Linked DNA regions of Homo sapiens: region 2 is linked to region 1. Evidence: fine-mapped expression QTL. A gene starts in region 1. The other region holds a variant in brackets. All regions are shown on one strand. Distances are from middle to middle. Region 1 holds the start of SLITRK4 (SLIT and NTRK like family member 4). Region 2 has its middle 58 kb from the start of SLITRK4.

The links. PIP is the estimated chance that this variant, and not a neighbour inherited with it, causes the effect. A credible set is the group of variants that fine-mapping cannot tell apart.
Region 2: its variant is the best candidate, but not a certain one, in a credible set for the expression of SLITRK4 in skeletal muscle (GTEx, PIP 0.56).

The regions. Positions count from the first base shown.
Region 1 is chrX:143,631,481-143,647,946 of GRCh38, reverse strand. It overlaps SLITRK4 (SLIT and NTRK like family member 4), which reads left to right and starts at 11,846. Exons shown (of 2, transcript NM_001184749.3): 1 at 11,846-12,212.
Region 2 is chrX:143,569,828-143,586,293 of GRCh38, reverse strand. No RefSeq gene overlaps it. Among named protein-coding and RNA genes, the nearest start is that of SLITRK4, 58 kb to the left of the region's middle. The variant C/A (reference allele first, on the strand shown) is at 7,019.

The DNA.
Region 1 (16,466 bases):
AAGTCCCAAGGCTAAATGGCTATAAGAAGTATATTTAAAGTCTGTTTTGACCTATTAAAACAATCAAAATATAAAGAAATCCACATTTTAGCCTTGTTAAAATAATTTTAGTAGGATTTCTCTCTTTCTTGAAGTATTTATCAATTGGCCCATTTAAATATTGAGGCACATCTGTGTATACTGGTTAAAAATAAAAAGTAATAATGTAAAACTAGACCTGCTTATATTTAAGATACTATTGCCAGCTGCTCTTGTTTCCTGAGAACCAGTTGCAGTTTCCTGCTTGTTATTTCTCAATCACTAGATACATACATACATATATGTATGTATAAAGTAGAGAAGACAGTTTTTATTGTATTTGGCTCTCAGTTCCACTCGGGAAGCCAAGTCCCTAACACTATATACACTGTATACAGCTGGCGCTCAGTATCAGTGCATTCAACCAACTGTGGACACAATGAGATTGCATCTCACGCCAGTCAGAATGGCAATTATTAAAAAGTCAATAAACAACAGATGCTGGCAAGGTTGTGGAGAAATAGGAACACTTTTACCCTGTTGGTGGGAATGTAAATTAGTTCAAGCATTGTGGAAGACAGTGTGGAGATTCCTCAAAGACCTAGAACCAGAAATATCATTCGATCCAGTAATCCCATTACTGGGTATATACCCAAAGGAATATAAATCATTCTATTATAAAGATATATGCACGCATATGTTCACTGAAGCACTATTCACAACAGCAAAATCATGGAACCAACCCAAATACCCACCAGTGATAGACTGGATGAAGAAAATGTGGTCCATATACACCATGGAATACTATGCAGCCATAAAAACAAACGAGATCATGTCTTTTGCAGGGACATGGATGGAGCTGGAAGCTATTATCCTCAGAAAACTAATGCAGGAACAGAAAACCAAACACCACGTGTTCTTACTTGTAAGTGGGAGCTGAACAATGAGAACACATGGACACAGGGAGGGGAACAACACACATTGGAGCATGTTGGGGGGTGGGGTATGGAACGCATCAGGAAAAATAGCTAATGCATGCTGGGCTTAACACTTAGGTGATGGGTTGATACGTGCAGCAAACCACCATGGCACACGTATACCTATGTAACAAACCTGCACATGTACCCCAGAGCTTAAAATATGAATTTCAAAAGATCTTCATAAAAATAACAATAGAACAATAAAAATAATACAGTATAACAACTATTTACATAGCATTTACATTGTATTAGATATTACAAGTAATCTAGAGATAATTTAAAATATACAGGAGAATGGGCATAGGTTATATACAAGTACTATGCCATTTTATGTAAGGGAATTGAGCATCTTCGAATTTTGGTATCCTGGGGGTTCTGAAACCAACTCCCCACAGATACCAAGAGAGGACTGTAATGTTCACACCCCTGAAAACAACATGAGGATCTCTTCCTTTTTCATGATTTGCAAATCAAATTTGAGAAGACCCTTATTGTTTTGGTATCTTCTTCCATTTTATTTCTTTTGCATATGTGAACTACTTCAATTTCTGGCCCTTCCAAATGATTCCATTTCTTATTTTATAGAACATTTCCTGTTAATGTACTTTCCAAATATGCCTGGCACATGGTAAATTTTGACTCTATATTCTGGAGGAATATCAAAAATTTGGACTGTGTCATCTCCAGAAGGACATACAAGTTGTTGACCTTGCCATGTGATGGAAGGCAGTGTTCTGATTTTCTTAATTTCCTTGAATATGTGCCATGGAAGCTTACCATTATTGCCTTTAACTATAGTATTTCACAACATTTTATAAAACCGAGAAATTTAGTAAAGTTTGAGAATGAGCGGTCAGTAGTTAAAGGACATGTTCAATCAATACATTATATAGTATTGTTTATTATAACACAATACATGATATAGTATTGTTTAGTATAACATAGTCTCATCTGCTTTATCACTAAACTAAGTGATCTTGGAGGACAGAGGCAGTTTCCTTCACCTTGGCACCCAAAGTCTGATGAATTATAGGCATTCAATAAAGATTTAATAAACTGTACTTTATGGTTGAGCAGATTATTTGTAGTCAGTCACCTCTACTAAAACTCCATATGTTCTTGAAATTCTTGGAGTTCTTGGAGAACAAAAGGAAAGATAATTTTCTATTACTAGGACAGAATAAAACATGCTCATTTGTTTTAGGTGTACATTTTGATTCTTCCAATGTGCAGCTATCAAATCAACCATTAGGATGGGGATGGCAAGGGCGAGTGGTACTGGTTTGTTTCAATTCTGGAGAGCTTATGTCTATGTGGTTCACAATGTGATATGGCTCACTAGGAAGACTAGGAAGTCTCAGGATTAAATTTGCCCTTTCCCAGAAAAGCTCTGAGTACAAATGTGTTTAATTCAGAATTTTCAATCAGTGATAAAGAGGACAATATGCTTCGTTTTTTAAAAAAAGGTAATTACTTGAAGTGGTTAATGAGTTGACTAAGAACAAAAACCTGCTTGAGAGTTATGTGTAATTTAGATATTGTGTGCACGAGTATGCTGAAATGCCATTTGTTTCTCCTTTATCCATTTTCCCCTGTAGGCTGGTCTGTTCTTGCCACTAGTCTTAATAAATGATAAAATCAGAATCTCAAATGAATTGGAGATACCTTATATAATATTTAATAATGAGCTGAAAAAGAGACCCAAACACATTCACTATTCACTTTTTGAGCCACAATCCAGTTAACCATCAGTCCTTGACCGTCCTTTGTTACTACAAAAATACTGTATGAAACTATCTCCTTACAGAGTTTCCACTGCTTACCAAACTCAACTTGTTTTACAGTAAGACACCCTTACCTCGGAAATTTCTCTTTTACAAAATCTGACAACTTTTTACAAATGCTTTTAAACCAAAGAGAATTTGTCAATATATTTAATTTCGTGTTTAAATTTTGGTAGTAACTTTGAGACCGTCAAACTATCATGTAAATCTTTCTGTTCGCAAGACATAATTGGAGAAAAGATCAGCACAACTCTGGCCACTCACTAAATTTTATATTGGAAAATGGCGTTTCTTTGACCTTTGTCCAGATATCCTCTTAAAGTATACAAGGAGGGGTAGGAATGGAAGATAAGAGTCCCAGAACCATGGTCCCCTCACAGGGATAGCCTGCCATATGTCACAGAGGACAGATTCTCAAGGAGAAAATCTGGATGACTGTCAACAAAATTCCTCTCCTTTCAAGGCTCAGGAAACTCACATCTCAAAACACAGGCAAAGAAATGAAAGGAATAATCATTATATGGTCCATTTGTGATTTTTTTTCATTGCCCTGAGTGGCTGAATCCTGTAGTTTGGCTTTCTGGATATTTCTTCATCCATAAAGATAATAAAAATGAAATTTCATAGAATAGCTTCAGCTATAAATGGAAGTAAAATGCCCAAAAACTTGAACTATATGGGGAAAAAAAAAAGTTGTCTAGAGGCCATCCTTAGAATATTTTTTTTTAACCTTAGAATTGTTTTACTAGAGAAGGTATAAATAGAATCGAGATGATGTAAGTTAGATGTCAACATTTCCAACAATGAATATTGTAAGAAAAGTCAATTAACAATGGATACAATAGGCACTATATCTGTCTGAATAGTTATTAGATGATTGAGATTGAATTAATTTACACATAATTTATCACACGAATGTGATCTTAGGTATAATTGCATCACACCTTGTCAGATCTGACTTGCTTTTCTCTAAAAACAGCATATGCTACTCTTATGACAAAATAATCTTAGATAGAACAATACTAGTTCTTCAATGAGAACACATGGACACGGGAAGAGGAACATCACACTCTGGGGACTGTTGTGGGGTGGGGGGAGTGGGGAGGGATAGCATTAAGAGATATACCTAATGCTAAATGACGAGTTAATGGGTGCAGCACACCAACATGGCACATGGATACATATGTAACAAACCTGCACGTTGTGCACATGTACCCTAGAACTTAAAGTATAATAATAATAAAATAAATAAATAGAAAAAAAGAATACTAGTTCTTTAAGTCATTAAGTTTCTAAAAATATACATTTCCACTGGCAAAATGATAAAATTAGTGCCCCCAACTCACTTGAACTTTTTTTGCACATATATTACAAACAATAAAGCTATATACACGTTGGTTCATTTTTTTCCTTTCCTTTCTCTTTTCCTGTTTGCTTCCCTAAAAAAAAACCAGTGATAAGATTCAGAAAAATATATTTTTAACATTCTTTCCAGGGCCATTATGAGGAACTTTGTTGCAATAATGATAATACCCACTTTTCGTGGGTCTGACATGTAGAGGATGAGATTCTAGGTTAGTCTGGCAAGCAAGGCACGTACGATTATTTTAAAAAATAGTAATGGAGTCTGCAATCCTCAATTCTACAGAGATTGTTGTTAAAATTAACTTTTAAAAAAACTAATAATATGTGAAATGAGAATAGAAAAGTAAGTAAAGGATACCAGGTGGGGTAAGAACAGGTGGATTTATTTTTAAATAATAGTTCTAGCTTTTGAAATAAACAAAAGATACACTGAATTAATCCAACCACTCTCTTCTACTCGCCATCCTTAGACTCGAGAAGGGAAATAATACATGGTCTGAATTATTTGTTTTTTTGTATATGTGGAAGTCTTTTCTGTTTATAAACAGAAGGAAATAAAAATATTCTGCCAGAAAGACACAGTGCTAGGTGTTTGTCAAACATTATACTTGTTAATCCTCATAAACTCAGGACTATTGAGTTTGTCCTGCCCACTTTACAGAAAAGGCAATGAAAGCGCAGAGAAGTTAACTGCCCTAACTCACAGAACTATTAAATAGTGAAGCAAGAAATTAACACCAAGTTCATCTGGTTCCAAATTTCACACTCCTGAAACCCTGATAGATCTAATTTTATGTTTCCTGAATATTTACAAAACAGCAACAATTTCAAAAATTCTGTAATTAATTTTCTGAATAATTCACTGGAGAGCTTACCCTCAGTGAGCTCCCCATGACTGGGTGTATTCAAGCACTGAGTGTTCATTTGATAAGATATCAGTTTTGTGAGTGCTTAAACTAGAAGAACTTTGAGGTTCCTTCAAACCCTGTTTCTAATTGATAACCAAACTGTGCACCTGAAAGAGAAGAAATTCTCTGTGATGACAATTTTTCCTATACCCTGATCCCTTTACATGGGACCTGAGGACTGTTTACTCACGGCAACCTTACGTGGGTAGACATTACTCAATTTGAGTCAGAGTTGGGAATTAGCAGCTCCAAATTCAAACTGAAAAAGAAGGTAGTCAATCACAGATGCATGACACTAGCTTACACAGATGTTCTGCTTTCCTCTGACTCACTCTTTGAGGCTTGGAAAGGGATAAACTTTATTTTAATATAGCAATTGCAATACAGTCATACCATAACTCATATTTTTATATTATGCCTTTTCTGCCTTGTTTTATGCCTCCGGTTTTGACCCAACTTTTGAATTGTTCAAGAGCCTCTAAAACAAAGGAGGAGGAGCTGAGAACAAGATCAACTTTTTATTTTTTTTATTTTTAATTTTTGTGGGTACATAGTAGGTATATATATTTATGGGGTACATGAGATGTTTTGATACAGGCATGCAATGTGAAATAAGCGCATCATGGAGAATGGGATATGTATCCCCTCAAGCATTTGTCCTTTGAGTTACAAACAATCCAATTACTCTTTAAATTATTTAAATGTACAATTAAGTTATTATTGACTATAGCCACCCTGTTGTGCTATCAAGTAGTGAGTCTCATCCATTCTTTCAAGTTATTTTTCGATATTATCTCACTCCAGTTAAGATCACTTTTGAAAGAAAGATTTAAGTTTATATTTCTAAGGAAAAGTAATATTGTTATAAAAGCATTGAAAAAAAGACCCTCAATGCTTTTGCAAAACAATAATGTTTTGCTAGCTAGGGACAACACTGTGGTTCCCGAGATAGAGTGGAACACGATAAAAACAGAAAGATTTTTATCAACTTACTATCTCTCTGATAAAGCTTCAGTTGGTGTTATGGAACTTTTACAGCCCATAAGAGTAATTCTCACACTAGACTGTTTAGCTATTAACTTCCTATTTTTTATTTTATGATCTTTATTATCTTTGAGTTGTCTGAGGGCTGTTGAGCTTGTGGCTGGGCCCTAATCTTTGACAGTGAGATTTCTCCAAGTTAGAGAATATATAGAAAAGAGACACTATTTTGTCAGCATCCCTGGCTTAGCAATATTCTAAACCACATAGGTAGTTCTAGTTAGCCATAGGGACAAGTACCCATTAGGGGCCAAAGTTACAAAGACCCTGCAAAACAACATACCCCTCTTTATTATTATTCTAGAAATAATAATTTCTGAGTGAAGTGTTATTTGAAAAATTAGCCAATGCCTTGCTACACAGACTGTAATACATTCACACCTGATGCCTGAGTTTCTGAAAAGGACACCAGGTTACCAGCTGTACTATAAAGAAGTCTGAGCAAAATGGAAGGTCAGGTTAATTGATATAACCTAATCAAATAATCAACTAGTCTCACATTTTCCAATTCATTTGGTATCCTATTTTATAACAATCCTTTTGTCTTAACTGGAATAAGTCTAGGGATGAACACTACTGCTTTGCTTGGTGTGGTGGTTAATAATGAGCGTCAACTTGATTGGATTAAAGGATGCAAAGTATCGATCCTGGATGTGTCTGTGAGGGTGTTGCCAAAGGAGATTAACATTTGAGTCAGGGGGCTGGGAAAGGCAGACCCACCCTTAATGTGGGTGGGCACCATCTAATCAGCTGCCAGGGAATGTAAAGTAGGCAGGAAAATGTAAAAAGGTGAGACTGGCTTAGCCTCCCAGCCTACATCTTCCTCCCATGCTGGATGCTTCCTGCCCTTGAACATCAGACTCCAAGTTCTTTAGCCTTGCGACTCAGACTGGATTCCTTGCTCCTCAGCTTGCAGACAGCCTAATGGGGGACCTTGCGATCATGTGAGTTAATACTACTTAATAAACTCCCATATATATATATATATATATATATATATATATATATATATATATGTATATATAAAATATATAAGTGTGTGTATATATATATGTGTGTGTGTGTGTGTGTGTGTGTGTGTGTGTATATATATTAGTTCTGTCCCTCTAGAGAACACTGACTAATACACATGGCTTCATTTGGTGATAGTGAAAGTGATTATCCCTAATAAGGAACATTTGAGACATCATCACAGATTCAGAATCAACTCAGGTATGAGAGTTGAAAGAGCAGAATGGATAGAACAAGGCTACTACTGGCAAAAGGTAAAATCAGTTGATTCAAGAGACCTTGTCATGCATAATTGATGTGAACTGTTTTTAATGTCATTTATTTGTTTATTCCTGTGCTGAGTATTCATACTTTAATACTTGAAAACATTTATGTCTCAAGTATTCATCTTTGGAAAATTTATTCTGCTTTCAAATCTATCCCTTTCTCTTTTTTTGAGACAGGGTCACTCTGTCGCTCAGGCTAGAGTGCAGTGGCTTGATGATGGCTCACTGCAGCCTTGACCTCCTAAGCTTGAGCGATCCTCCCACCTCAGCCTCCCTAGTACCTGGGACTACAGGTGCACCCCACGATGCCTGGCTATTTTTTTAAATTTATTTTTTAAAGAGATGGCTTTTCACCTTGCTGCCCAGACTGTTTGTCTTGGCATCCCAATGTGCTGAGAATACAGGCGTTAAGTCACCCTGCCCAGCTTTCAAGTCTATTCTGCTTTCAAAGTTAAAAATTCCCTAATCCCCCTGTGAAAACGAAAATGTGGTGTACTGGAAAAACCTCAAAGATCTGGGGTCAAATCTTGACCATCACTTACTCACCATGTGACCTCGGGCAAACTGTTTACCTTCCCTGAATTTTATTTTATTTTATTTTATTTTATTTTATTTTATTTTATTTTGAGAGAGTCTCAGTCTGTTGGCTGGGCTGCAGCGCAGTGGCATGGCCACAGCTGATGGCAGCCTTGACCTCCTGGGCTCAAGTGATCCTCCCGCCTCAGCCTTCCAAGCAGCTGGGGCTACAAGCATGTGCCACCATGCACCACTGATTTTTGTATTTGTTGTAGAGACGATTTTTCCCATGTTGCCCAGGCTGGTTTTGAAATCCTGGGCTCAAGTGATCTCCCCACCTCAGCCTCCCAAAGTGCTGGGATTACAGGAATGGGCCACCATGCCTGGTCACTTAACCTCATTTTTAAAATAAGTATGATAATCCCTTCCTTGTTCATAGAACTAAATGAAATAATATTTGTAGGCAGCACAGCAAAGAAGAGGCACTCAACAGACAGTAGCTACTATTGAATGGGTTAATTATGATCTGAAAACTTCCTTTCATGTTCTAAATTCCAGAAAATTTGTAAAAATGGGCTATTAGTATGTTTTTCAAATTATATAGATAGAAAAAAGGGTTCCATTGTTAAGTAAGTCTGTGAAATGCCACATGCCATATCCCTTTTCCCTTGGTAAATAAAAGCTCATTTAAACATAATTAATTGTGTTGAAAAATCCCAAAGTAAAAATAAAATGTTTAGCTTTACGGAACCAAGGGTCTTTTAAACTTATTTGATCATGGAAACATTTCTTCCCAGAAGATATATTAACATCCTAAGAACTTTCTTGTATTCCACTTAGAGAAATAGCAAGTGTGTGACCGGACACGGTGGCACACGCCTGTAATCCCAGAACTTTAGGAGGCCGAGATGGGCGGATCACCTGAGGTCAGAAGATTGAGAACAGCCTGGACAACATGGTGAAACTCCATCTCTACTAAAAATACAAAAATTAACCGGGCATGGTGGCACATGCCTGTAATCCCAGCCACTCAGGTGGCTGAGGGAGGAGAATTGCTTGAACCCAGGAGGCAGAGGTTGCAGTGAGCCGAGATCACACTAACGCACTCCAGCCTGGGTGACAGAGTGAGACTCTGTCTCAAAAATAAATAAATAAAAATGAAAGAGAAATAGCAAGTTTGTAACTGTTAAAATGCCAGAATATAAATAAATCTTCAATATTAAAATACACTGAATCATCTGTGATACCTGGATACGAAAATTAAGGCTGATTTGATTTTGAGCAGCAGCCTAAGACAAGGCAAGATAAATGAGGAATACAGTGAAAGTGAAAGACCGCTGACTAGGGCCAAGACTTGGCATTATAATCACTTTCGGTTGGTAGTGTTTTAATGACTTAATTCCAAACTGCCTTCGGAACGGAGGGTATACAGGATCTTGTTGAAATTCTTAGTGCAGTTGTTTTTTTCCCTGATGGAGGGAGACACAGTATATCAGTGTAGACCTACGATTCTGGTTGTACTCCTAAAAAGTCAAGATGAAATAAGGTAAAACATTTGGAGGAAGACCGTGAGAGTATTGCAAAACTCACAATATTTGCATGCTTACATTTTAGGAAGAACATCAATTTTGTTTTTCTTTCAATGGCCATAAATAGTGCTGGAGTTTTCTTAACACTTTTATTTATGTATATATTCACTTCCTTTGTTAAGCTAGCAATTCTGTGTCATTTCCTACTGTTCTATTGGGATGTCACCTGTAGTTCTAGGGGACGGAAAAGGGACTGTGGGACTAAAGGATTGGGTTAATTACTTTGAAAGCAAAATAAGCATAAAACATGGAAGTTGTTACTTCTGTTTTATTTTATGAGTGTCCACTTTATCTTTTTAAGTAGCAAAACATTTTATTTTAAAGCATTCATTTAAAAAAGTTGAATATTAATCACAGATAAGTTCTTAGGAATATTATGAATTGTAATTTATCGATGATCTAGCTACAGTGGCTTTCAGATTTGTCTCCATATCCATATGAAAAATAACATTTCACAGTTATTGCAGTTAAATATAGCCAAGTCTCAGAACAGTTTCTAAAGTTGAATAAAGATAGGCATTTAAATCATCTGATATTTACTGTCCAAATCTGGCCTTTTCAGTTATCACATTACTTAGAATTTTCAGGTAAACTTTTTTTGCTCATTCTATTGACTCTTGTTAACATTTGTAGTAAAAGACAAACATTTCACCTATCTGGATAAAATATATTCAGCTTCCTGAATTGTTAGCATTTAGAATAAATGCCAACTTGTTTTGATACCCATTACTACTTTCAAACTGCATTACACAATAAAATGCAAATGTGAGTTATTAATTAGCAGGATCTGTTTTGTCCAAGTGTGCAAGAGTAGAGGGATTTTTCAACATTCTGCAGCTGTTACCTATGAAGGAAACATCATTCACTTTGCTAAAAGGAGCTGCACAATTACATACGCTGTTATAGACAAATATTTTAGTGTTTCCTTAATGCTATTTCATAATGGATTTCACATTGAATAAGATAAATTTTACCAATGCTGCCCAATTTCTGTCTCTAGGTTGTTTGTAAAAGAGAGGATGATTACAGTTTTCAAGGCAATGTGGAGTGAAGGTAGAGAAAGAGTTCTTCATGAACGACACAATATTTAGCAAGGTCATAAAGAAATATGCCCATACACGCATATCTATTTAAGTATTCATTTACATATTGTACGTGCATCTCTGTATACATGTTGTGCCCGGTGAACATTTGTGTGAATATAACCTGACGGAAGTCCCATAAAATGACAAAAAATGAAAAACAATGAAACATGTATATGAATGACTACTATAGATGATACAGAAGGTAGACCATTATTCACAAATAATGTAATAAATCCTTTGCCCATCAGATGTTTCTACCTAGATTTGGGGCCTTTAAACATCAACCAATTATGGTAAATGTTTAACTGTAGGAGTTCAGGCAGACAGCCAAATTCTGGTTTCAAAGCTGTTGCTAGTTTTAGCTTAAAGATTTTTTTTTTCATTTTTAAGCAAGAACATTTCTGGATACCGGTTGTGCTCTATTGTGGCTAGAGCCGCTGGGATTTGAATAAGTAAATTGGGCAACACACTGGTCCTGAAGAAATGGGCCTGGCAGTATTACCTGAATGTGGCAAATAATAGGCTACCAAGAGTCCTAGGGAAATACTTCCCATTTATAACTTAGCTCTACTTACCTAAAGCTAGTTTATTCCCACAGACACGAAGAGAGAGAGAGTTGTTTTTCTTAGCCAAGCTCCTACAAAAAACAGCAAGGTTGGGGGATGGGAGCACATCCAATGTTTATGCCTTTTGTTTAGGAAAGCCAGGTATCTGAAATACATACATGATAGCCAACTCCTCTCTGCTCCCCTCCCCCAGGTTTATTTATTTTCTTAACAAGCTTATTAACGAAATTATCAATTTGCATGAAACTGGTTTGAACATTGGCCCTTCCTCAGAATATTTCTTATCTCTTGTGGAAGCACTAACAAAAAGGGTAGAAGAAGGGGCCTAGACAATCCACACGTTGGATTTGCAGCCACTGGATATTTCAGATTCAGCTGCTAAAGCCTCTTTGGTATACACAATGAGGGGCGACTGAAGTGACTTTTCTTAGTCCATTTCCTCTCCTTCTCCCCGTCTCCCGAAGGTACTCCGTGGGTCCCTTCCCTTTCTCTCTTCACAGTCCCTCCTGAGCAGTCCCAAAGCTTCAAACCTTGTTCTCCAACCCCCTTTCCCTAATGTCTCCCAACTACCACCCCCTTCCCCAGTCAAACTCCCCTCCCGGTCACCACCAAAGCCCGGAGAAGTGGAATGCACACAATGCCTCCCTTATAGGGCTTGAGCTGGGAACTGGGCATGCTCAGTAGCCAAAGTAGTTTTTTTTTTTTTTTTTCTTTTGGTCGCAAGTGCGGCATCTCTCCCAGTCCCACGCCTCTCTTTCCTCAACCCCTATCCCCTATCCCCTATCCCCACCCCCAGCTCCAAGATCATCCGGCTTAACCCATTCTGCACCAAAGGCCCACGGAGTTCTAAGGTGCGGATAATTAACCCGTCTCCTTCTAACCCGGCTAAATAGTCTCACTTTAGGCTAAAGCCTCACACTTTCGCCTTAAAGCCCCTGGCCCCTTACGCGCAGACAGGTAGGGGGAGTGCGAATACTACTGGATCCTAGGAAATTGGTTCCCAAGAAGGCTCCTTCCAGGATCGACCGCCACGGAGAAGTATTCCAGGAGCCCTCCGTTCTGCGGGGTGACAATTAGCCAAAGGTACCGTACCCGTGATACAAAATCCAAGTATGATTGTTGCATTTGAATGTCATTGTTGTTGACTCATTCCCCTCCATCCTGTAATTATTCAATTCCGCGTAGACTCGACGACCCTATCGATCTCCCTCGGCCCCCCTCCCCCAGGCTCTCCAGTGTTTCTTTGGCTTTTCCTGGCTTCTTGGTTGCTCTCTCAAAGGAATGCCCCGTGTGTGTGTGTGTGTGTGTGTGTGTGTGTGTGTGTGTGTGTGTGTGTTCCTTCGTTATTAGGGGACTGGAAGAGAAGAAAAGGGCTCGAGTGTGTGTGTATGTGGTGGGGGGGATGGAGGCGAGTGCGCCCTTGTTAGAGGACTGGGGTCTCCACGCCTGAGGAAAGGGGTCGCTCCTCCCTAGGGAATGTTTTAGGCAAAAAGAGGGGGCGGATGCCGGGAGGAAAGCGCGCTGTCTTTCTGGGTGTGTGGGTAGAAGAGGAATCAAATGGGCATGTCTGGATGGGGGACGGGGGTAGGAGCTCAGGAATGTGAGGGGGTCAAAGTGGTCGAGTGTCGGGAGGAAGGACTGCTTGTGTGCGGGGTGGGGGGGGGTGGTGGAGAGCGGGGGCGGGGATTCAGCGCGTGTATGTAAAGGTGCAGCCCGTGTGCTAGGCGCTGGGTGCGCGCGCGGTGTCTGCTCGGGTGCGCGCGCGCGCCGCTGCCCGCCTGCCCGCCGGCCCGCCTGCTCGCCTGCTGGGGCTGCTCCGTGGGTTTGACGGGCGAGCGGGCGCGGAGGAGCTCTGTCCGGAATCACATAGATACCATCGTGGAAACAGCAGCGCAGGTCACGGCGCCGCGGGCCCTGCACCAGACGCTGGGCTCTAGAGGTGGGTGAATTTTCAGCGGGGGCTGCACAAGCTGCACCGACACGCGTGCTGCCTCTTCCCCGCTCAGCTCAGTAGCGCGTGTGCGTGCGTGTGTGTGTGTGAGAGAGAGACAGAGAGAGAGAGAGAGATCTCGCGCGCGCGCACGCGAGCCGAGGGGGCAGGTAGCTTATTATTTTTAGTTTGGGTCCTGTTGGTTTGGGGCCGGTTGAGTGGCCAAAGTGGCCGAGGTGGCTAATCCTGCCCTCCACCTCCCACTTGCCTGCCTACGACGCGGTCTCATGCCGCTGAGGACCGGAAAGGATCCGGGTGTCCTTGGCATCGCTGCCCGCCCCCCCCCCCACCATACCCCAAGCGGCCAGGGCGGCGGGGCAAGTTGTACAGGTCTCGGGTGGCTCCGGCTGTCGGGCCGCTGGGCTGGGTTGGGCTTTATTTTTGCACCCCACTCGCAGCCACTTTCCGCAGACGTGGATCTGAGGCTCGGGGCAGTGGCCCGCGGGTTGGTCGGAGATTGCTAGCGCTCGGCAAGACTAGGAATACCAGAGGAAGAGCCGGTGGGTAACTCTAAAAGCTCTGCAAAGCCAGGCGAGCGCTGCCAGCGCGACTTTGCAAGGGGCCTAAATGTTGAGCTGATTTCTGGCATGGTGAGAGCAGGATTTTTGTAGCTGGCCAGGGAGGGAGAACAGGCAAGGGGGAGCCTGGGCCGCCGCTCGCAGCCACAAAACCACAGGGTCACTCTGCCCGTGGCAAGCAGGTCAGTGACTCCCTAGTGCCAACGTCTTCGAGGCGGCCTGATCTGGCCTCTCTTCCTCCTCACCCACCGCACGCCTGGGTCTAGAGAGGTCCACTGAAACTCCGGCAGCTGCCCCTTGTGGGACGGGAGCGCGCGGAGAAATGTGTGAGCGGCGGGACTGAAGGCCCCCGCGACATCCCGCGCGGTACCCCGCCTCCGCTACACGGACCGCCAGGCTGCTGCTTGGGCCCCTGACGCGGAGGGGGCTGAGCGGCCGGCTCCGGGAACAGGGATGCGGCAAAACATTGCGGTACGCGCTAGCAGCCCCTCCAGCCTCCTCGCCGCCCGCCCGAGGTAGCGCACCCGGGCGGCAATGGCCGGGTCTCTCCGCGAACCTCTTCCACCTCCATCCGAGCCTTAGGCGGGCCAGCGGGGTTTCCCGAGGGAGCTCTCGGGGAGCCACCTCGGCCCACCGCCCTGAAGCCCATCAGTGTTCTGCCCCCCTCAGGCCGCTTCTCTCCTCCCAGTCGCGGAGTGCCAGGCGCTGCACTCCGGTGGATGCAGGATTTGTTTTTGGTCGGGCTAGGTTTGTTCAGTCCTGGCTGGTCGTGAGAGCCAAGGGTCTTTCAGGGCACCGAGAGGAAGACGGACAGCTCCCAGCAGCCACAGAGAAGGCTCTTGGTACCCAGCTGGTACTTTGTGGGCTTTTTCTTTTCTTTTTTGCGTTTTTCCCTTGATGTTTAAATGTGCATGTTTCAGTGGTACCACCGGAGTGTGAGGCTTTATTCGCATACATTCAGTGCTCCCTTTACCCTCTTTGTAGCTCCCTTCTCCGAGTTCTTTTTCTTCCTTTCTCCACATTTCCATGGTCTCTTGCCCTTTCAGTACCTCTTTTCCTCTCTCCTTGGTGGACCAACTGGACTCTTTCTCTCTCTTGCCTGCCCCTCCAGCTGCTTGTGGCTTCCTCTGTTTCACAAGAGCTGCATTTGGGAACTTCCTGGCTCTTACTAGTGCCTTTTCCCCCCCTTGCTACTTAAAGTAGCAATCACCAGGAGGAGGGCAGCTCCTTATGCATTTTCAGATGTGTTGAGATTCCTGGTTCTTGTTTTTGTACTGAATTCGGATTATAAGGATTTTTTTTTTTCTGCGTTTGGTTTTTAGTTTGGTTGCTTTTGGGTTTCTTTGTTTTGAGGTGGGTGGGGTGGTGGTTTAGTAACAAGAAATGACTCAACTGAACCAAAATAGCTGTTGAAAACCACATTCATAACAAGGCAAAAAATATCAAGTGAAATTTTGATTTTACAATGAAAGTTGCTTTAGGTGATGTCATAGTTAAGAATTATGACTTCTTTTTGCAATGCCAATCATGCTCTCATGGTGAATAGGGGAAATGCACGTCTATATGGCAGCCAAATAGCATCTCAGCAGTGCTGGCTGTATTCTGAACCAAACTACTTAAAATGCAAATCCTCCTGGGTCATGGCTAATGGGTTGTCTACCTTGAGACATGTTCGGTTTTACCACTAGCTGATTCCTCGTGGGTAAAATAAACAAAGGAGTTTCTGTGCGACACTTCTTTCTTTGCATCATTTCCTTGTTGTGTGTTCCTGGGTATTTTATGTATTTAATTAATATTTGGAGATAACGATATTGAAATTGCACCCAGCTTCCCATTCACAATGGAAAAGACTAATATTGCTAAAATAGTATCAATAAAATGCACTCTGCTTGTGTTGTTTAATCTTTTCCAGGAAGCATCGTGTATGTTTGTGTATATATGCAGTATTTAAGGACCTGAAAACGATGAGTTATTTTGCTAAGCATTAAACTCTACCAACAAGTGATTCTTTATGCGTTTACAGTCAGGGACATGGGGTGGTAATATTAGGAAGGGCGGGTGGGTGTTTGGAACTGATGATTTTAGGACGAAAAATGTGCTGTACTGAACATATTTGGTGCTGTAGCAAAAGCTACTCAAAGATTGTGTTGTGTGAACTCCCCTTCCTCAGCAGTTGCAGTCTGTGGTCAAAGTGAAAGAGATAAAGCAGTTAAGCCGAGGATCAGTCGGACCTGGGTTCAAAATGGTAAATAAAGATGTGGGAGAGGGCCAGGGAGGCAAGAGAGCCAGTTCTCAAAGTGGAAAGACTGCCTGGAGATTAGCTAAGCAATGCAGGAGTAAGCAGGTTACTCTGCTGCTTTCAGAGGCTCCAAGACAAAAGGCTTTTTGCTCCCTCTTTGGGAGATGACTGACAGGAAATTAGAGACTGTTTATTTACCAGAAAATAAAATTTGGCCATCCCTTACTCAGTTGTTTTTCTAGAACCGCACAGCGTCGTCTGTGTCTTTGAAGGCAGCAGTGTACAGGAGTAAACCGATTGACAGCAATGAACTTACCTATGGGGCTACAGCACAAGCAAATCTCTTCCCAGGTCACTGTTCCTTAGTCTTTTAACAGTCCCTGCTACAGCAGCCCAATCCTCCCATTTCCATCCTCCAGTGAACTCTGGGCTCTAATGTTTTTGTTTTTGTTTTTTTAATTCAGCCTCTCTATCTAGCTGAAGCTTAGAGAATAGATATCCACTAATCAAAATGGCTTTGTGGTACAAACTCGATGGCATACTTGATGGTCTCGGTCATTTGAAGTGCAAGTAGGAAGCTTAAGGCCTGT
Region 2 (16,466 bases), 62 kb after region 1:
GCCTAGGATAAATCTCTTCAAATATTTTACAGAGTTTGACTCCTGTTGTTGACAAGCTATTGTTTTAGCTTTACCAAATACCTGGGTCATTGTAATTGCTCATGTATTGTAGTCAAACCTCAGTCAAAGAGAAACATGTTGATAGAAGGGAAGGAGTCTGTAAGAAATTTAGGGGAAAATGTAGAGAGAAAACCCAAGAGAAGAATAGTTCATATTTATTCAGCAGCCCGGTATATGGCTGCTTTGATCACTGCCCACAGAGATTTTCTTACCCTTGACAGGCTAGCTCGTAGGGCATCAGTCTGTCTCAGTTGAAGGACACTGTTAAAATTCTCAGTTTTTTACCTCCTGGCCAGCTTCACCCTTATCAAACGCTCCTCTATAAAACACCCCAAGAATCATTCTTATAAGGTAGAGACACAAGTTAGGGTAATTTCCTCTACAATATTTCTGCATCAATACTAGCTCTTAAGGTGCATTTAAATATTATTTGTAGTTGCCTATTTCCCACAGACTGACTGTGAGGAAGCTCACAGTAAAAATACATTGATAGAGTGGCTTAAATATCAAGAAGGCCTCAAAAACCAAAGAGAGATGGGGAAGATAATTGTACCAGGAAAAGGGAAAGATATAATTATTGTAATTAAGCACTAATTTTAGCTCCGAAGACATTAAGGTCTGAATTGCACTTACTTTTCAAACTCAGTCACTATTCTACGTTTTAATCCTTTATACAATTTTGTACCTTTATACAAGTTAGAATTATATTGGTAATTTATTCAAATCTTCTTTTATCAGCATTCTCAGTTCCCTTAAGCCCAATATTTAAATGTTTAAAATGTCACTCCCTGCTAGTGATTTTTTAAAGGAACTATTATCATTTTATGTTCAGTACACACACACACACACAGACACACACACACACACACACACGAGTTTCCTCTTTAGTATATGTCCTAGATCAATGTGTCTGGTTACTATTACTCTTGGATCTTCTCAACTCTCCTCACCCCACTACAATATCACATCTTTCCCTTCCATCACATTGAAACATCTGAAACAGCTCTCATAAGGAAAATCACAGCATACATTTTGCCAAGCCTATCTTCATCCTGCTTGAATTCAAAGCACCATTTGACATCGCTGACCATTCGCTTCTCTCCTGTCCTGGCTTCTGCTTGCATGTTTTCTTATTTTTCTTTCTACCTCATTAAAAGCATCTTACTCACTCTCTGTCATCTTTTCCAGGCCTCTAAATATGGGAGTTTCTCAGCATTCTGTTCCAGAATTATGATTCCTTATATCTCTAAGAGTAAAACACAAAGGCCTGCAAGACTCTATGCGATCTGCACCCCACTCCCTTTCTGACCAGGTAGATACATTTCTAGGTACATCAGTACTCTCCTGGATATCAATACTCAGAAATACTTGTCTCCACTTACCATCTCCATTTTCTTTCTTTCCATTTTCTCTAGAACCCACCATGATCATGTTTTCATCTGAAGCACGCCACACCACTGAACAGCTGTTGTCAAGGTCACAAGTTACTACCTAGTTGCCAATATAAAGCTTGATCTTCGGTCCTCCTCTCATCCGACCTGTCTGGAGCATTTGAAAAGTTGATCACTCTCTTCTTTGTAAAATACTGATTCACGTGGTTCTAGGACACCACTCATTCTTTTTTCTTTTCTTACCTTACTGGTCTCTCTCGTTCTGTATCTTTTGCTTACACCTTCCCCATCTTCCAGACCACTAAACATTGAAATTCCTAAGATTAGTCCTGGATCTATTTTCTTCTCTATTTATACTCATTTCCTGGGTGATCTTACCCAGTCACATGGCTATAAATATCATCTATATGCTGAAGACTTCCAGATTTTTATCTCCTCTCTGGACTTCTTACCAGAAATACAAATTCATATATTTAACTGCCAACTACACATATGCACTAATAGGCATTTCAAATGTAGTATGTCCATACCAAACTGCTAATACTTTACTCAAAAACTCGCTCCATCTACATTCTTCTCCATTTTAGCAAATGGCTGCTCCTTTATTTTTGTTCAGTTGTTCAAGCCAAATGCTTGGGAGTCAGCTTTGCCTCCCTTTTTATTCCACACCACATACCAATACTTCAGTAATTCCTGTCAGTTTCTACCTTTAAGAAATAAAAATCAAATCAAAATAACAAGAAAACTACAGCAGAATCTAATCTGGCCACTTCTCACCGTACCATCTCCATTGCTTCCACCTTGGTGCAATCATGACCTCTTGCTTGGATGACTTCCAGAGTCTTCTAACTGGCTTCTAACTAGTGTAACTAGTCTGCTAACTGGCTTCTACTCTTGCCTTTCTACAAACTACTCTCTATATAGCAAAGTGATTCTGTTAAAAAGTAAGTCAGACTATGTCACTCCTCTGTTCCAAACCATCCAAGGGAACCGCCCTCATTCAGAGAAAGAAAACAAAGTCTTTATACCAGCTTTTAAAGATTTACCTAATCCAGTCCTTTGTTTCTCTGACCTCATCTTCTATACCTCCTTCTCTTGCTCTCTTTCTTCAAGTCACACTCACCTCCTTGTTATTCGTTGAACTTGAAGGTATTAGGCATGCTACTACCTTACGATATTGTTATTTTTGCTATTTTCTCTACCTGGAATATTGTTCCCACAAATAGTCACATGTCCCACTCCCTTTCTTTCAGGTCTTAATTCAAATATCACCTTCTCAGAGAGACCTTCGCTGATGACTTTATATTAAAAGCATCCTGTCACTTTCTAACCCTATTATGCTGCTTTATATTCTTCGTAGCATTTATCATCAACTGAAATATTACATGTTTATTTGTTTATTGTCTTTCCCGCCTAACTAGAATATAAGTTTATGGAGATAGGATTGCCACTGTTTTGCTTACTGATATATCCTCAATACCTAGAATTCTCCCTGGCATATAGGAGATGCTCACTAAGTACTAGGTCAATGCATGAAACGGACTTTCTTTTCAGTCTACAGCTCTGTTCATAGATTCAAATACCTTCGACGGCACTTTGAAAACAATTCATTTTTCTCGTTAAACCATTTTAGTATTTGTTGAGCTAGGCGCTGAAGCTGCAATAAGAAAAAATAAGGTATTTCTTGCTCTCATAGAGTTAGATCAGTTTCTCACTTTCTTCTTCCCGGTTTCCTCCCCTTGCCACCACTCACACTGAAATGCAGTCCTTCTGTGTTATACACGTTAATACAATGCTATTACTCATTATGTGGCCAGCCAAGTTAAAACCAGAGTGGGTAATTTTATCTCCTTTTTCCCTATACCTTCAAATCCAGTCACTTACCCTGTCCAATCAGTTCTACCTAGTATATCTCTAAGATTTATCATTTCCATTTCACTTCTACTGGCAAATAGATTCCACTTTCTCCAGTCTCACCACGACCTTCTTAGGCTCTCATAATAATCTTCTACTTAAAAACTAGTTCAATAAATTTTCCTGCCTTCTTGCCTGTTCCCCTTCCCTCCAATCTATTTTCTACATTCCAGCCAGGGTGCTCTTTCTCAAATGCAAATACGACCAGTCTCTCCTCTGCTAACTACCCTTTGATGGTTCTCCATTGCTCACAGGACAAAATTCAAATATCTTAAAATGGTGTTTAAGACCTTAAATGATTAGGCACCTACTTACTTCTCTAGCACTATATTTTATTAGTTTTTAAGTCCAGCTCACATATGACTGTCTTTAAGCATCTTCCCAGATCTTCTTCTATTCCATTTACACCACTGGCACAACCTGATCACACTACATTAGAATGAGTAGTGTGCCCAGGAGACTGGCAGTCTTTTCAACTGGAGTGTCAGCTCTAGATACTCACTATGCAATTTCAAATACCTCCTCTGCTGAAATTGTGTTCTCTCCCTTCCCTGACCTCATTCTGTGTTTTCCCTCCTTTCTCTTAACACCTTTTATTCCAGCTAGTGCTGTACTGCTCTCCCCACTACAGACTGAAAGCTCCTGGAGGGCAGGACTGTGTGCCTCCTGCCATAGTCAGGTTTCCAACCTGTGTACCACTGGTCCTGGTGGTTTGCTCAGAGTAGTAGGTACTCAGTCAGTACTTGTCAAATGGGCAGATTGTGCCTATAAATATTTGTACTCATATTGCATTTCTGTCTTTTCCTTTTGATGATATAGTTTCATCATTTACAAGATGCTGTTATGATATTTATGTCTATTAGCCTTTCTGCTAAATAATTGCTTGGCGCTCCCTGTTTTTCTAAATTTGGTAAAAATATCATAAAAAAGCATTTGGTAAATTTCTCACAGAAAGCCAAACACTTTTATGATGTGAGAGACTTGATTTGTTGTATTTATATCAAGTCAATATTGGTTTAATCTTAAATTCACCATTCACCATCTTTTTTGTTTCTCGTTATCAAAACTCATTTTTTATGACTAATTTAATCATTGACTGAACTCACTCAACAGTTGCCCATAGTTACTAAAAGATACAAAATGATACTGTTTATAAGCATTTAGGTCAAAAATGTTCAAAAGAAAAATCAACTAAACTGATACTTTTAATTAGTATTTTGAGGGTTGAGGATTTTTAAAAATTTGTTTTTCACTGAAACTGCTTTGGTAAAAATCAGTACAAAAACAATTGATTTTTTAATTGTCTGGTTTGAAGAGACATGTTGGAGTAACAGAAACAGTCACAACCAAATGCAGCTTCTTCTGGTGGTACACTTCGTTCCATGATGTGGATCAGTTCTAAATATCATTCCAACTATTCTTAGATTCAAGTTATGATACTGTTTTGTTCTTTATATTTGGCTCTGTTTGTAACTCAACAAGTGTCTTGGGTAAGTCCCATGAGTAATAGAAACTGAGAGTAAGCTAGATCAGAAATACTGGATATGGACGATCATTATAAAATGCACATGTTGACTTCTCAAATTATGTCAAGTGACAAGGCTCTTTTTGACACATTAAAGTGATCTGCTCTCTTCAATACTTAATTTATTACTAATGAGGGACTGCAATTGCTTCAAATTAAGTAGCCTACACTTATCATAAGATCTGGCACATTTCTACTTCTGTTTTTAAAAGAATATTTGAAATTAAAAATGTAGAAAATTAGATGCATAAAAATGCATTGTCTAATCAATAACCATAATCATTACCAGCTGTCAAAATGTATCTTAAAATGTTATGAGCTAAATTATGCTGTAAAGACATGCATAATTTTTTATAGAGATTTAGCTGTATTTGTTGACCCATTGATCTCACTCCAGTACAGCATGAACCAAGGAAATAAAAGGGGAACAGAACATAATGGAAGAAAGAACACTTATCCAGGAGGCAAGAAACTCAGCTTAACCATTTATTGGCTGTCTGAATTTGGGCAAGTCACTCTCCACTGTATGTTTCCATTTTCCCACCTGTAACATGAGATGGTTGGACCTGAGCAAAGGTTTCTGACTGCCTGGTAGCCCATGCTGATTCCATGATTCAGCCCATGCTGAAAATTCAATTCAGTTCCGTTCAAGTCAGTTCAATCCAACAATCTTGAGGGACAGCTATTGAAGCAGAAGTTAAAAAGAGAAAAACAAGTTTTCCTATACTTGGCTGACTCACTCCAAGGCCAGCAATAGGCAGGGCCCTGGCAAAGTCTCAATAACACTATCTGGAAAGCCAGAGCCCAAAGGAATGAGCTCCGGAGACTCTCCCAACAAACCCCTCCCCCTCCCTGGAGCAAGGATAAGAAAAACAAATTCCTTTACTATCTCCTCTTCCCCCTTACCATTACTCAGTGTCTCAAGTTTTGTAAGTTCCTGTTTTCCCTTCCATGCAGCTGTAAGGTCACAAGCTATGCTTAGGTTACAAAACCTGTCACAGTTTGATTAACTGCCTTTGTTCTGCTTCTGTAAGCCTGCCTGCCCGCCTCACAGGTTTTGTGCCCTCAGTTTCCTGCCACTGCATTAAAACTAGCCAATTCCCTTTCAGAAGTGTATATAAAAGTCAAGCCCTGTGTTTGTTCAGGGCTCAGCCTTTGGATGTGAATCTGCTGTGCCAGTAGCCACCTAAATAAAATCCTCCTGTTCCACCCATTGGTCTCTCTGGTCTTCTGATTCCCACAACACTACAGCACCATATTATAACATAATACTGCCAAATGTAATATAATATAATATGAACATGATAAAAGTTTTTAAAATCAGATAAGAATTTGACTCAACTTACAATCTATATGATCATAAAGAAGCCAATTCAAGGGAGGTAGAGGAATATGGTGGAATAGAAAGCTTCACTGATAGTTCCCCCAGCAAGGACATCAGATTAACAGCTATCTACTCAGAAAACACACCTTTATAAGAACCAAAAATAAGGTGAGCACTCAGTACCTGGTTTTAGCTTCATATCACTGAAAGAGGCACCAAAAAGGTAGAAAAAACAGCCTTGAATTGCTGATGCCACCCCTCCTCAATCTCTGGCAGTGGAATCCTGGTACAGAGAGTATCTCTGGGCACTGGGGGAGGGAGAACACAGCAATTGTGAAGCATTGAACTCAGTGCTGCTCTGTTAGAGCAGAAAAGAAAAACCAGACCAAACTCAGCTGATGCCTGCCCACAGAGGGAGCATTCAAATCAGCCTTAGCCAGAGGGGAATTTCCAATCCCAGTGGTTCAAACTTGAGTGCCTGCAAACCTTGCCACCCAGGGCCAAAGTGCTCTTAGTCTCTAACTAAACTTGAAAGGCATTCTAGCCCATAAGCACTGCAACTCTTAGGTGAGTTCAAGGGCTTAACTAGGCCTAGAGATAATGGATTAGAAGGCCACATGACATACTGTGACACCAGCTTTGGCAGGCAAAATGTGCTGGCATCACCCCTCCCCTAATCCCAGGCTGCACAGCTCACAGCTCCAAAAAAGACCCTTTTCTTCCTCTTGAGGAGAGTAGAGAGAAGAGTGGGGAGGATCGTTTCTTGCACCTGAAATACCAGCTTAGCCACAGCAGGATATGGCA[C/A]CAGTCAGAGTCAAGAGGCTCCCATTCCAGGCCCTATCAGCCAGATGATATTTATAGATATACCCTGGGCCAGAAGAGAACCTATTTGAAGAAAGGGATCCAGTCCTGCTAGCATGGGCTCTGAATAACCAGCAGTAATATCCAGGTGCTATGCTACATCAAGGGTTTTGGTGAGCCTCTGAGACTTGCTGGCTTCAAGTACCAACATCACCACAGGGGTGTAGAGCAGCAAGTCAAGACTGTTTACTCTTGAATGACATTTCTGGACCTGCCCTGTGACAGAGGGGAGTGCACTGCCCTGAAGGATGAGTCCCAGGACAGACAGCACTCACCACAAGCTGACTTAAGAGACCTTGAGACTTAAGGGAAAATCAGTGGTAGTCTGGCAGTACTCCTTGTGGCCAGGGGTGGCTCCTCTGCCTTTGGAAAAGGGAGGGAAGAGTGGGAAGGACCAAAGCAAATATGGACAAATGGGATCACGTCAAGTTAAAAAGCTTCTGCACAAAAGTTACAATCAACAAAGTGAAGAGACAACCCACAGAATGGAAGAAAATATTGGCAACTACCCTTCTGACAAGGAATTAATAACGAGAATATATAAGGAGATTAAACAGCACTATAGAAAAAAATCTAATAATCTGATCAAAAGATGGACAAAATATTTGAATAGATATTTCTCAAAAGAAGTCATACAAATGGCAAACAGACATATGAAAATGTGCTCAACATTAGCATCAGAGAAATGCAAATATAAACTACAATGAGATATCATTTCACCCCAAATGTCTTGGATATGGCTTATATCCATAAAACAGGCAATAATAAATGCTAGCAAGTATGTGGAGAAAAGGGAACTCTTGGACACTGTAGGTGGTAATGTAAATTAGTATAACAACTATGAAGAACGTTTTGTACGTTTCTAAACCAAGTGATTTGAGAATCACAATGACCAAGAGAGAAATTTCAACTTGGAGACTCAGAGGAAGACACATATATTCTTTCAGTGATCATTTACTGAACTGCATTGTGCTAAGCAGGGGTAAAGTGATGGATAAGAAGAAACACTTGCCTTTCTTCACAAAACCAATGAAGATATTTTGAAACGTTTTTATTCATTGACTCCCGTTAAAAAGCTGATGAAAAGAAAAGATTCTATCCCTAAAAATATGGGCACATGATTTTGCATTTAAGTGTAAAGAGTTCAAGAACTCTTTGGAAATTTATTCTTACATCCCCCAGGCACATGGACTCCAGATTCAAACCTCCTAATTTAGTTGGGGGTTTTATTTAAAAAGGTAGCATTTGAATAAAGTCCTGAAAAATGGTTCGAATTTCAGATGGGAGCAAAGAACAGTGTTCTTGGACTTTGAACCTGTGATGGTTATTATTAAGTGTCAACTTGATTGTATTAAAGGATGCAAAGTATTGTTCCTGGGTGTGTCTGTGAGGGTGGTGCCAAAGGAGATTAACATTTGAGTCAGTGAACTGCTAGAGGTGGACCCACCCTCAATCTGGGTGGGCACCTTCTAATCAGTTGCCAACATGGCTAGGATAAAAGCAACAATACGTGGAAAGACTAGACTAGCTACGTCTTCTGGCCTCCATCTTTCTCCTGTGCTGGATGCTTCCTGCCCTCGAACATTGGACTTCCAAGTTCTTCAACTTTTGGACTCTTGGACCTATACCAGTGGTTTGCCAGGGGCTCTCGGGCCTTTGGCCACAGACTGAATGCTGCACTGTCGGCTTCCCTACTTTTGAGGTTTGGAACTCAGACTGGCTTCCTTGCTCCTCAGCTTGCAGACTACCTATTGTGGGACTTCACCTTACGATCGCGTGAGTCAATATTCCTTAATAAACTCCCTTTCATATAGCCATCTATCTTATTAGTCCTGTCCCTCTAAAGAACCCTGACTAATACAGAACCCATCTTTTCCAGTCTCCTGGCTCATACTGACCACTTGCTTTTGCACGTTTGTTGCCTTGGGACAAAGTGCCTCATTTCTTTTCTTGACATTATCCATGTGTTCCTTGAATTCCGCCTGCTTGCCTGTCTTCTGAATCCAGCTCTTTAGCAACCTCAGGCCTCTGTGCTATCCTAGTCTGCCACCCTCCATCTATGCATCAATGCCCTCATATCTAGTTCCTACTTTTCATTGCTAACAAAGTCTTTGGTCTCCCATTCTAACTCCTATGTTGGCTCTATGATGCACTGCCAACAAATGGCCCAGTGGTACAAGTGAACATAGAGGGAAGAGGTATGTATGAGCAGAAGACCTCTCTCAGATCCAAAGCCTATTCTTAAAAAGCCAGCCTGACCTATCAGTTCTGCTTTTGCACTGCCCCAGGTGTTGATCTCTTATGTCTGTATAGGACTTTATGGCTCACGGAGTAGTAGACTAACTACAGTCACAAATAAATCCCAAATCTCAGTGTGTTAACCCAATAAAGATTAGCATTTTGCTCATGCTTCCGTCCGATGCAGGTAGGCAGAGAGGGGGCTCAGCTCCAAGCATCATTTGGGTGCAAGTCTGACCACGTTCCACACATGGCTCCCAAGACTGCTCTGGGAATTGACATTGAGATGGCAAACAGGGAAGAGAGTCAGTAGCAAGGAAAGTCTGGCAGGAACTAAAACACATCCCATTTCACTGGCCAGAACACAACTATGTGGCCTTTCTAATTGCAGTGGGGAGGCTAGGAAAGGCAGCCTAGCTGTGTGCTCAAGGGGAAAGTGAAAAGATGTTAACACATATCAACTCTGCCACGCATGGCCACTACCATGTTTTGTGTGTGTGTGTATGTGTGTGTGTGTGTGTGTGTGTGTGTGTGTGTTTTGAGACAGAGTCTTGCTCTGTCACCCAGACTGGAGTTCAGTGGTGGGATCTTGGCTCACTGCAACCTCCACCTCCAGGACTCAAGCGATTCTTCTGCCTCAGTCTCCTGAATAGCTGGGATTACAGGCGTGCACCACCATGCCCAGCTAAGTTTTGTATTTTTAGTAGAGATGGGGTTTCACCATGTTTCCCAGGCTAGTCTTGAACTCCTGACCTCAAGTGATCTGCCCACCTTGGCCTCCCAAAGTGTTGGGATTACAGGCGTGAGCCATGGCACCTGGCCGCCTCTCTTATTTTATCCTCCTAAGAACTCTGGGAGGTACATGGCAATAATTTATATCCTCTGTTAATAGATGAGGCACTAGGATCATATTGGTGAAGTCATTTGCCCAAAGCCACACAGCTGGCAAATGGCAGAATCTATGGTCAAACTCAGTCTGTCTGCTCTAGTACTCAAACTCCTCTTATACAACATGACCTATAGGTTATACTAAAATATAATGCCTGCATGTCAGAGGAATTATATCAAAGTGAAATTTGGGGATGACTTACATCAGAAATATTTTAAGGTGTTGTAAGAATGCAGATTCCCTCGTTCCAATTTATACCTAATCACTGATTCAGCATCTAGAAGGGTCGGCTGGAGAATCTGCAGATGATTCTTATATACTTGATACAGTTTGAGACCTCGCTGCCTTAAGACTTTATATGATTTTTCACCTGTATATTTAAAAGAGAACAAATTCATATGGAGCCAAAAAAGAGCCTGCATTGCCCAGTCAATCCTAAGCCAAAAGAACAAAGCTGGAGGCATCACGCTACCTGACTTCAAACTATACTACAAGGCTACAGTAACCAAAACAGCATGGTACTGGTACCAAAACAGAGATATAGACCAATGGAACAGAACAGAGCCCTCAGAAATAATGCCACATATGTACAACTATCTGATCTTTGACAAACCTGAAAAAAACAAGAAATGGGGAAACAATTCCTTATTTAATAAATGGTGCTGGGAAAACTGGCTAGCCATATGTAGAAAGCTGAAACTGGATCCCTTCCTTACACCTTACACAAAAATTAATTCAAGATGGATTAAAGACTTAAATGTTCGACCTAAAACCATAAAAACCCTAGAAGAAAACCTAGGCAATACCATTCAGGACATAGGCATGGGCAAGGACTTCATGTCTAAAACACCAAAAGCATTGGCAACAGAAGCCAAAATTGACAAATGGGATCTAATTAAACTAAAGAGCTTCTGCACAGCAAAAGAAACTACCATCAGAGTGAACATGCAACCTACAGAATGGGAGAAAATTTTTGCAACCTACTCATCTGACAAAGGGCTAATATCCAGAATCTACAAAGAACTCAAACAAATTTACAAGAAAAAAACAAACAACCCCATCAAAAAGTGGGCAAAGGATATGAACAGACACTTCTCCAAAGAAGACATTTATGCAGCCAAAAAACACATGAAAAAATGCTCATCATCACTGGCCATCAGAGAAATGCAAATCAAAACCACAATGAGATACCATCTCACACCAGTTAGAATGGCGATCATTAAAAAGTCAGGAAACAACAGGTGCTGGAGAGGATGTGGAGAAATAGGAACACTTTTACACTGTTGGTGGGACTGTAAACTAGTTCAACCATCGTGGAAGTCAGTGTGGTGATTCCTCAGGGATCTAGAACTAGAAATACCATTTGACCCAGCCATCCCATTACTGGGTATATACCCAAAGGAATATAAAACATGCTGCTATAAAGACACATGCACACGTATGTTTATTGTGGCACTATTCACAATAGCAAAGACTTGGAAGCAACCCAAATGTCCAACAATGATAGACTGGATTAAGAAAATGTGGCACATATACACCATGGAATACTATGCAGCCATAAAAAAAGATGAGTTCATGTCCTTTGTAGGGACATGGATGAAGCTGGAAACCATCATTCTCAGCAAACTATCGCAAGGACAAAAAACCAAACACTGCATGTTCTCACTCATAGGTGGGAATTGAACAATGAGAACACATGGACACAGGAAGGGGAAAATCACACACCAGGGCCTGTTGTGGGGTGGGGAGAAGGGGGAGGGATAGTATTAGGAGATATACCTAATGTTAAATCATGAGTTGATGTGTGCAGCACACCAACATGGCACATGTATACATATGTAACAAACCTGCATGTTGTGCAAATGTACCCTAAAACTTAAACTATAATAAAAAAAGACACTAAAATAAATAAATAAATAAATTAATTAATTAAAAGAGAACAAATTAAAGGTGGTTATAGACAGAAGCATTTTCACTACTTTTTAATTTGGTCTCTGATGGAAGACCTCTAAATCTGACATTGATGATAAAATATTCATTTGTATTTCGATGTTTAAAAACAAAAGGATTTCTTTCTAAAAATAGTCATGTAGGGGTAGGGGAGAGCAAGCGTCTATAGCAAAATCATCATTCAGGTGGAGAGAAGTTTAATAAAACTAGCTATCTCTATTGGCAAAGTGACTAGAGACGTGAATCACATTCTTTGGCAATTCAAGTAAAAAAATATTTCTTTCTTTTGAATTTAGAGCTTTATGTGTAATTCTGAGATAATGCTTTAAATTAAAGATAATTTTAGAATCAATTTAGGGAATAGGTTCTTTCCCCGTCACATTGCCCAAATATTGAATACAGATTTTACTTCACACATAGCATAAATATTGTATGGTCTGTGACATCAGGAGTATAAATATTTCATAATTCAGAAACAGATACAGTAATCACTCATCCAGTTTAATAAGCTTCTCAATTTGTAGCTTTGCATTCCATCCCCAAAATGTGAGACTGCTGATAAGCCTCTTAATTATATTTTATAATATTTCATTTTAGTGTAAAAATTATCCATAATATTTCACTTTCATTCAGAAATCACTATTAATTTAAGGACTGTTAAGTAAGCTATCTAAGAGCTTTATAAATTACTTGGATAATCAAAATATTTGCTTTTCACACTTCAAGGTGGTTTTACACATTAATTGTATTAATTCTAACTTTAGGCTTAAAATATCCTTCTAGTAATTATAATTTAGCGTGAATTATTTAGTCTTTAGAAGAATCACACATAGAGAAATGCTAAGTCATCAAATGGTACTCATGACTTCTTATGGTAGTGACAATCAAGTTACCTCGAATGGTTCTATTTTCTGCCTTAGTAGATACAGGTGGTTTGTTGGTACAACCGAGGCCACATTGGGGGTGTGGAGGGGCCACTCTTCATCTTTTCTGAAGAGGGTGAATGATTGGGCATCCTGATTTGCAGAAGACTGAGGCCAGAGTTTATTTGTAGCACAAGCTAAAACCCCAGTTTTCTGCCTGGTCCTGCCTCTTACAAATTGAGGCCTTAGCATTTCCACTTGGCTTCTAACAGCCTGATAATTTTGAAGGGGTTTTGGGATGGCCTGATTATTTCCGAGTCAGCATTTGAGGCTATCAGGTCTGTTTGCCCATTTCCACTCTTGCAAAGATACACCTGAATACAAATGTAAATATTTCAGTAAATTTTATAGCTGAGTTCCATTTGGTTCTAGTTTATTTGAATCTTACGTGAAGTTGGAGAGGGCACTATCTAGGAACTGCACTGTAGTAAAATGTAATAATCAAGAGCAAATACTTTTAAATTAAAAAGGCTTGGGCTCAAGTCATGGTTCTGTCATTTACGAACGAGGTAACCTTGAAAAATTTACTTAATCTCTCTGAGCCTCCTTTTCTTTGTGTAAATATAAGTGATGATAGAATCATAATATCTATCTAATAAAGCTATTACTGCAATTAAGGATCTGTCTTCTCTCTTAAGGAATCTATCCATCTGTCCATATACACATATAACACACACACATATAGTGCTTCACATAGTACTTGGCACGCTATAAGCACTGAAGAATGAACTATGGCCTGGTGTGGTGGCTCACGCCTGTAATCCCAACACTTTGGGAGGCCGAGGTGGGCATATTACATGAGGCTGGGAGGTCAACACCTGCCTGGCCGACATGGTGAAACCCCATCTCTACTAAAAATACAAAAAATGAGCTGGGTGCAGTGACATGTGCCTGTAATCCCAGCTACTCTGGAGGCTGAGGCAGGAGAATCACTTGAATCCAGGAGGTGGAAGTTGCAGTGAGCTGAGATCACACCACTGCACTCCCGTCTGGGCTACAGAGCAAGACTTTGTCAAAAAAAAAAAAAAAAGAATGAACTGTGACTACATAGGCTAAGTGTAATCTTGTGGACCAGAAGAAGGAAGGTCCAGGACAGTAACTTGAAGCGTAACCTTGACTCAGCTTATCACTCACTAGCTCTGTGACCTATGGTAAAAATAATTAAATTATCTGAGCCTCTTTCTCCTAGCTGTAAAATGGGGCTAAGAACAGTATTGATTACACAGGTACATACGATACTTAACGTAATGTACTTAGAATAGCACCGGACACATACTTAGGACTTATTAGATGTTAGTACAGAGCCAAGAGAATGTGCTTTAGAAGGAAAAAATGGGCCGTGGCGTCAAGAGGCCCAGTTGAATATGAACTGTGAAGTATCCATTAGCTTTAGCATCAAGGATGATGTTGATGACTTTGGAGGAAACTTTTTCAGTGAAGGGGCAGGCACAGCGGGGAGAATGAATGAGTTGGCAGAAAGGAAGTGCAAACCGTAAGTATAGCAACAACAACAACGACTACTACCACTACCATATATGAGGTCTTACTATGAGTCAGACTTCCTTAAGCATTCCTCAGGAATGATGCCATTCACACTATTTCTACATCTTACAGATGAGAAAACTGAGGCTCAGGAGGCTTAAGTAACATGGGCAGTGTTGCAGTTAGCAGGTGCCATAACTGGATTACAAACACAACTTCTTTTCACACCTCCATGCTAGCATAGTGAAATGCTAGAAAGCTTTGAGACATTTATTTAACAGCTTCCACAGATTAGGAGAAACTGTGTATTTTAGTTTTCTTAGCACCAGGGCAAGGAGAAAACACATAAAAAAGTAACCTTCTAACTCAAATAGCTGCATTTCAAGGCTGGGGCTTTGAACCCAGGGTTCTACACATTTGCTGGGATGACTAAAACTTTTCAGATTCCCTCTAATGATGTGATTGAAAGACAGTGCTACTTTAGTTATGGTGCCCCAAACTGACAATGTTTGAAACACTGCCAAACGTTTAGTTGGAATCACAGAGAACAGTCAGGGAAAAAAAAAAAAAAAAAAAAACTCATAGTAAAGATTTTGCAAAAATGAGGCACAGAGTCAGGAAACAGCTGTGTTTTACCCATTTATATGCACTCCTGCTTCCTTAATGTGGATGGATCTTTCTATTTGAACTTCCTCATGCAGTTCCTTCCCAGTTTACTCCAGTCACTGTCTCCATTGGGTACCCAGTCACAGCCTTCTAGTGGCAAAGGTCTACAAGGATGCAATCACAATGACAAGCAGAAAGTCACTGGGAAGCTGCAGAAGGAGAGGGCAGAAGAGCTGTGGTGAACTGGGTACAGACTTCATTCCACTTTATCCACCCACTATCATGCCACACCCTAAACCTCATAATCGTCCGCAATTGCCAACTTGAAATAATAACTTCAAACCCTCCTCTATGGCCTGTGTCAGAAAGTAGAGAGAAGCAGAGACTGAAATCAGACTGATCACAGCTGTGCCACTGCTCAGCTCTTTGACCTTGCACACACAATTTGACCATTGAGTATCTTAGTTTCATCCCATATAAAATATAAAAAATAACAATATATACTCTTAGGGTTATTTTTAGATGTTTGCATAGAACAGTGGCTGGATTATAGTGAGTACTAGCTCTTGCTACTATTGTTCTCTCTCTCCTTCAACACCTGCTTTTTATAACCCATTTGATACCTCCCAACTTTAGACTTTTTCATTTTCTCCCAAACCATCAGTTTTCTTCAGATTTCACCCCATCTTCTATTTTAATCTAGGTACTAGATTTATCTTCTCAATTAGTTACTGTCTAAACCCTTCACCTCCTTGGATCCTTCACTGTCCTGCGTATCATACGGCAAAATTATAACCCTGGATCAATCCAGCTGTTCACAATTGTCTGGCCTCCTGTTCCATGCCCTTACTTCCTCAATCATAGTCAAAGAGGTCTTCACTCTGAGGCAGATCCCAGTTCTTATCCCTCTTCAAATAATTTAATTCACAAGTGATCCCACCTTCTGTATCTTCAACTTGTTTACTAATTTTCTATTTCTTTCTCATCAGAATTTACAATGGCTTAGTTTCTCCTGCTATGGAACAAAGTGCAAAACACCCTCCCCACTACCATGTGTCTCTCTCTAGCTACCAACCTAGGACAGCAATACTTCTAGATTTCACATTTCTAGAATCTAAAAAGAGCAAGTTACACAATGTTGTATTCACATTCTCATTAGCATTAGTTCCTCAGTTAACAGTGGTGTGCATTTTGCCTTTCGTTTTTTCTGACGTTGTCATGGCAAAGTCACCTGTGCCTTATGATGGTATCAAGGGTAGATCGATATGGAAAAATGTTTAATCTCCCCCATAGGGTACAGTAT